Homo sapiens: one gene and its partner. The protein of the gene in region 1 purifies or fractionates together with the protein of each later gene. This does not show direct contact. Each region holds a gene or a part of one and is shown in the gene's direction. Other genes may lie near its edges.

The links. Proteins that work in one complex are often made in the same cells at the same time.
Region 2: the proteins of MTR (region 1) and DNASE2B purify together in Homo sapiens (co-immunoprecipitation; one large-scale study listed by IntAct). This does not show direct contact.

Annotation. Positions count from the first base shown.
Region 1 is NC_000001.11:236,798,292-236,801,791, forward strand, and holds part of MTR (methionine synthase), read left to right. Parts: intron 1-3,500. UniProt on the Homo sapiens protein: Catalyzes the transfer of a methyl group from methylcob(III)alamin (MeCbl) to homocysteine, yielding enzyme-bound cob(I)alamin and methionine in the cytosol. MeCbl is an active form of cobalamin (vitamin B12) used as a cofactor for methionine biosynthesis.
Region 2 is NC_000001.11:84,404,984-84,408,483, forward strand, and holds part of DNASE2B (deoxyribonuclease-2-beta isoform 1 precursor), read left to right. Parts: intron 1-3,286; exon of another isoform or gene 3,287-3,453; coding exon 3,454-3,500. UniProt on the Homo sapiens protein: Hydrolyzes DNA under acidic conditions. Does not require divalent cations for activity. Participates in the degradation of nuclear DNA during lens cell differentiation.

The DNA of each region.
Region 1 (3,500 bases):
ACATGCACATATTAGGAATTTATTTGTTTAGGCCTTCATCTTGTCATTCTTTAGGCTAGTTCTTAAAGGTGGTACTAGCTGGTCTACCCCCCTCCAAATCTGACTAGGGCTTTAACCACTTATACCTATGTTTATTCTTTGGAACACTTGCTGTGAATCAGAATATTGTTAGCTAGAAAATAAGATGTTAAGGGCACGGAAAAAAACCCCACAAAATATATTGGCTAAATCCACTCAAAACTGGAGAAAATACTGTGTGATCTCTTAGGCTCACTAGCCAAGGATGTTCCTTGGGACTCTCCTCTGCACTGCGGTTATTTACATATATACATTAAACATAAAAATATTTCTGAAATAGTGTTATAACTAGTCAGCTAAGTAAAGGAACTGCAAAACTATATTCTTATATTTACTGTGAAAGATAATCAGAAAGAATCTGCTTTATTTAGAACTTGACTAGTCAGTAGTTAAGTATACAGAATGTTCTAGACCTAATGAACTGAATACAGATAAATACAATTTTGTTGTTCTTCATGGAAGAGTGACATTTCAGTAGATCCCCACTCTGCCAGGGGAAGGAATTGTCAAGGTGACTTATTCTTTTGAGCAAGTTCTGATAGTAATTGGAAACTGGTGAATTAGAATGGTAATTAAAGCCCAGTGAAAAATGACCTCCTACTGGAAAAACTGGAGGAATACAGAAGGCTAAAAATAGTGAACACTTAATACCAACAGATTTTCTGAAGGAAGACTTCTTAGTTTCTCTAAATGGGAAATCTTACATTATCCTCTAAAGGAAAAATAAGCAAGTAGTTGAGGAAACTATGTTTTTTTTTTTCCCCCTTTTTCTTGAGACAGTCTCACTCTGTTGCCCAAGCTGAGGGCAGTGGCGTGATCACGGTTCACTGCAGCCTCGACTTCCCAGGCTCAAGCAGTTTTCTTGCCTCAGCCTTACTAGTAGCTGGGACTACAGGTGCATACTACCAGGCTTGGCTAATTTTTGTTTTTTTTTTTTGTAGAGATGAGGCCACTGTGTTGCCCAGGCTGTTTTCGAACTCGTGGACTCAGTGATCCACCTACTTTGGTCTCCCAAAGTGTTGGGATTACAAGTGTGAACCACCACACCCAGCCCAAGTAATGGATTTTTAAGGGCCTCAGTTGCATAGGAGTTTTTTATTCAGGCTGCAAAATTCCTGTGTTTTATTATATATTCCTTTTTATCTGTATTTTCTATTCACAATTCTCTTGTTTCCATAGACCGCCTTTTTCACATATATCCATATATTTATACATTTTGTTGTAAACTCTAGTCTATAGGTATTTTTAATTCACATTGTATATTACATTCTGGAATGTACAAGGAACTAACACAAATCAATAAGAAAACAAATTAGCTTTAGACATTGAAGAATCTCCCCCAACCCATCGTCTATTATTTTTGTCTATGGTGACTTTCGTTTAACAGAAATCCTTGGTTTTTATGTAATCAAATTCATTGTGTTTTTTTTTTTTAAATTAAGAGGTTGGTCTTTTTGAGTCTTAAGAAGTTCCTTTTCATTCGAAGTCATAAAGTTCTTCCCAATAAATTATACAATAAGTTTGTCAGGTTTCTGAAAAACCAAAGCAGATGTTTTTAAACAGCTTTTGATCTCTTGCCTATACGGTGGCTCAACAAACAAGATGCCAGAATTTGCATGTGTGGGGCTGGGTTGTTTTGTGGTAAATAGTGAACTGTCTTAAAGTCCAAAAACAAAGCTTATTATTTCTGGATTGAAAAGGGAATACAGTAAGGGCCCCATGGAAAAGTACTAAGACTTTTTATGAAAATGAGGGGTGGAGGCACTCTGAGTGGTTAGATTTGCTCAACTTGTGTGCACTCGCTCAGTGGAGGAGATAGGAAGAAGGACATGTAAATAATAGGATATTGATTGATATTGATTAATCATTTTGCCGATGCCAAAGGACATACTTCACTGTCTGTGGAAAAGATTGCCTTTTTCTCCCTAGGAAGTTTGAATACCTTTTAAATATGAAATTTCATGTGCATGACCTATTTCCCCACTGCCACACCTCATGCTCACACTAGGCTTATGATTCAGTCACCCACTTAAGTTCACGTGATGTCATTTCAGGGAGAATTGCAGCTACATCCTTTTGAGAAGAAAGCGATTCAGCTGGGCATGTAGGTTAGAGTCTTTAGTTCTTAGTCTTCTCATTCCTCCTGTGAAATTATCTACATTTAACAGCTTTCACTGAGTATTTTCTTCTTTCACTCGACTGTTAGAAGACATTTCCCAACCTGCAAATATGCCATTCCTGCCCCAACATGACCAACTGAGAGCTTCAGGCTTTACATGATTTTTCACAGCCCACTGAGCTTTGTAATATATAGAACACAATCTTTAGAGCTTCAGTCCTTGCTGTGCTATAATACCAACATAATAAGAGTAGCTAATATTTATCAGATGTTTACTATACATCAAACACCAATGTCTCATTTCATGACTTGTGTGACTTAAGAGGTCCAGTTCTTAACACATGGTCTCATTTTAGTATCACAGTTCTGATGATGAAGGCAGGGCTGATGTTTCCTCATCTTGCTGAAGCATGGAGAGGACTTGTCTAAAATCCCATAGCTACTAAGGGGAGCTGGGGCTAAAACCCAGATTTCTTGGGTTTTCACACCCTGCTACTATTAGCTTAAGCCTATCAAATTCTGAGTGCTTATTGGCTGATAGGATAGTCACATCATGGAGTGCCTAAATTAACACTACATGTGAATTTACCGTGTCGACTATAGCTTGAAATGGCGCCCACTGCCTGATGCCTACCAGTCTTTCTATTATACATGCTTCATTAAGCCCTACCTTTTCTCCACATTTCCCAAGAAGTGATTTTCTTTGGTTCTTGAAGTACTTTTGTACAGATCATTGGAGCTTAACTTCGTTCCTTTATCAGGAAGTGTTTTATCTCACCTGCAAGTTCAGTAAACACAATTAGCAAGTGAGGTGGCTTTGGAAAGGAATAGTACACCCTGAAAGAAACATAGTGCCCAGAAACTAGATATTGGATATTGCAAATTTTTCTTTTAGGTTACTAGAGCCACCTTCCTGAAGCCCACTTGGAGAAAGTCACTCAAAATAGTTCTGTGACCACCATTTAGCCCCAGTTCTCATATTGTATACTTGAGACTCTGGACAGTAAGACGAGGCAGGGTTGTAAGTTTGCACCCAATACCAGCTTACAAATATTCTTACATTACTGGTTTGGGTTTTAAATTATCTTTGCCTCTTCTTTCTCATCTTCCCTCACTTTTTTGTCATTTCAATTAAAGAAATATTTGCCAAGTACTGACCTTAGTGTTGCTAGGCATGAGTTCCAAGGAGCTCAGATAGCTTAGAACCAGCCCCATTTGACTTGAGCTTTTCTCGCCTCTTAGCACAGAAGGAATGGGTTGGCGTCATTATGGTTTGTTTTGAGTAACATGTATTCAGTCTGAT
Region 2 (3,500 bases), about 150 Mb from region 1:
ATAAGGAATTTTCATCTGCATTAAAAACCTGCTCAGGAAGAAATTATTTCCCCTCAATGATTTTCTTGATGGCATCTGGGAATTCATCTGCTGCCTCTTGGTCAGCAAAAGCTGCTTCTCCTGTTATCTTAATTTTTTTTTTTTTAGGCCAAACCTCTTTCTAAAATTGTCAAACCATCCTTTGCTGGTATTAAATTCTCCAGCTTTAGATGATCTACCTTCCTTCTGCTTTGTCATATAGTGACTTCACTTTTTCTCCAATCATATTAGAGTCTATAGTATTCCTTTCTTATAGCAATCTTGCACCCATATAAAAGCTGCATTTTAATTTTAAGTATGAGCTATAAAAGTATTTTGTAAAAAGTGCAAGGTTTTCATGCCTACTGGCATAGCTGCAGTGAGGGCTTCACAAATTTCCTTTTCTTTTTTCACAATGGCTCTTATGCTGGATTCACTTAACTTGAAATGGCAGGCAACTGAAGCTGCAGACCTCAATCCGCAGTACATATCAAGCAATTCAACATCTTCTTATAATGTCATGACTTGTCTTTGCTTGTTAGAAGCATTTCCAGCATCAGCAGTGGCACTCAGTATAGGTCCTACGGTTTTATTCAAGGTTTCTGATATTGCCCCAAACATGATGAAAAATATGCAAGAGCTGTGAGAGATCACTTTTGACTACAGTATGCAATTTACTGGAGAGAACTGCTCACGTGGAGGTTGTTAGTGTCATGTGGCATTTTCAGCAGATATTCACAAGACTTGAGCTCACCTCAATGGTGACAAAAGGTGGCTATAAAATTATTACAGTAGTACAGTATTACTACAGTTAATTTAATGCAGTTATGACTTAGTACTGCATATTTATGTTTGTTTATATTTCTTGACTGTGAATGGCACCATGTTTGGTCTATGTTTGTATATGTAAATTTTGATGAATTTTAACTTTTTATAATAGATTTGTGCATAGTTTAGGGCAGCAAATGAAAAAATAGACTAGTATCTACATATATTGTATGCATTCATAATGTATCTAACTTTTTCTTAATTTTTAAAAATATTTCTAGGCTATGTGGTTCATCTGTGAGTTTTTTTTTTCAAATTGTCAAAAATCTCCCCCTAAATTTTCCAACATATGTTTTTAAAGGCCTGCATACATATAGACCCATGCAGTTCAAACCCAAGGGCCAACCGTATTATATAAAATGAAAACGCCTGCAGCTGCTTCTGCTTTCCAGGTTGGGGATGGGGACCAGAAGCATATCTATTAGTGGGAAAATAATGCCTACATTGTTCCTTTCCACATCAACGAGACTGCTAGGGGAGGAAGAAGGAAAGAGCAACATTGTAAAGCCTCTATCATTTGCCTTAGTTGGAGTAGATAGGCCTTCACTTGCCGGAATACAATAATGATCTTTGAAGGTGCAAAGGTAGCCCCACACCCTAGCAGGGAGACACAGTTAAACTGCTCTGCTAAACAAAAAAGGGACAGAAAGAAGCCAGGGATTAAAAAGCATAAGAAACATGGAGAAAGACTGGGGTAAGGCCTTATGGTGATGTAAAACCATTCAATATTTCTTACCTTTAGTAAAACCTGCCACATGCAATGTCTTGAGTGATTGGTTCTGGGGGGAAAATGACAGGAAAGGGACTGATTTCCATGCCTGATTGGCATAGAGCCAAAAGAAGAGAGCAACAGCAGTTGGTGATATCCAGGTATGACTCAGTGTTCTTTGGAAGCTGGAATTATGTGCCAGAAGTGACTGTGAGAATATTACTCCTCCACCCCCTGACCTGGAATTGAACCTCTGACAGAGAGTGAAATGCAAGATTAGACCAACTGGTTTAAATCTCAAATGTGAAGGTGACCAAGGCCAATAGCTGGGTTACATTTGGAATTGTTTCCCTTCTCTTGCCTTTACAAATAAGAATCTTCCGTGTACCTTCATAAACATTTATCAAACTATATTGCCTGCACTTGTGTGACTATATTTTCTGCTAGACAGGGGGCAGAGACTGTACCCCTCTTGTTCAACACTCAATAGTCAAAACAATACTGAACATATGTGTTAAAGGAATAAAGCTATTCAAAGGCACATGCCTACATCTACCTACTCTTAAGTCCATGATCTTTTCCCTTTATCAATAGCCTCTCTTCCAACTAAGGCTACAATCCACTTAACCTCAGCTGGCAGTTACACTCAGTTAGAACAATAAACTTCATTTATCATAAAAAATAAATTCCTCACTGGATCATCCCAGAATTCCTCCATGTTGTACCCCAAAGGCACACAAATGGCCTCCTTACCACATTCAATGCAGGTTCACAGAGTAACTAACTCTTCAGAGTTCTCCAAATGATGATATGAATGCCATTCAGTAGCTATGATCAATTATGGAAAATGAAGGTAAGAAAACAGCTTACTTTTCGGGGCATTCCTAAGCACAGTAGACAAGAATGCTCCAACAGACTATGTTGTGCATTGAAAAAAAAATTTTATCACATCATATAATTAAGCAACTGTGAGAGGCTTCTTCATTGAATTTGTTTTCTAAGAAAAAAGCAAGGGCCTTTTTTAAGGACATAGGTTATCCTTTCCTGCTTTTAATTATGTCACTCAGATTTTTTTAATATTGACATTATTGGCTTCAATTAAAGTTGTATCATCACACAAATTAAATGGAACCACCTAGAACAAATATTAGCAAGTTTCTAAAACATGAAAAATAGATACTATCGAAATAATAGCTTTATTTTGGCTCTAAGATTTGGCTGTTTGAAAATTGACTCATATTTGGCCTTACCAGAGGAAATCCAATATCACACAGTAAATTTCACCACTTTTTTTAAGCAGGAAAATATCAAGTTGGAAAGGTGAAGTGACACTGAAAAATGGATTGCAGAAAAATCCTCTCATAATGGGAGGAAGGGAGAGCAGATAATGAGGGATCCTGATTAAACACAACGCTACTACCCAGCAGTGAAGTGAAGCACAAAGTGTGCAGAGAAAATCAGATCCTGACAGCCAGTTCTGCACTGTGCCTATAATATCAATGGAAAAAACCTCAGATGTAATCCTTGGTTGGTTGTTCCTACTTCATTTCCTGAACAAATAATTCAGTACTCCTTTATTATACACTGGTTGCTTAATCAGAAACTTGGTTCCAAAACAACCAAGAGAAATAGGAACATTGCCCTCACACACAGATCACAATGCACAGGGCTCCTGTCACATGAGTAAAAATCATGCACAGTTAAAAATGGACTTTCTTTCCCCTGTCTTTCATGTCACAGGCTTCATATTGATGGGGAAGCTGCCTATTAGGGGAATAGATGACTTCTCATGTGTATTAATGAAAGCAATGTATTGCAGGCTGGGTAGCTGGTAGAAATGTTGTGGGCGTTTGTAAGTGGAAGATTTACGCCATTATAACCCTAATATATTCCTGCAGAGTAACAACACAGCCTATCTAATATACAATGATGGAGTCCCTAAACC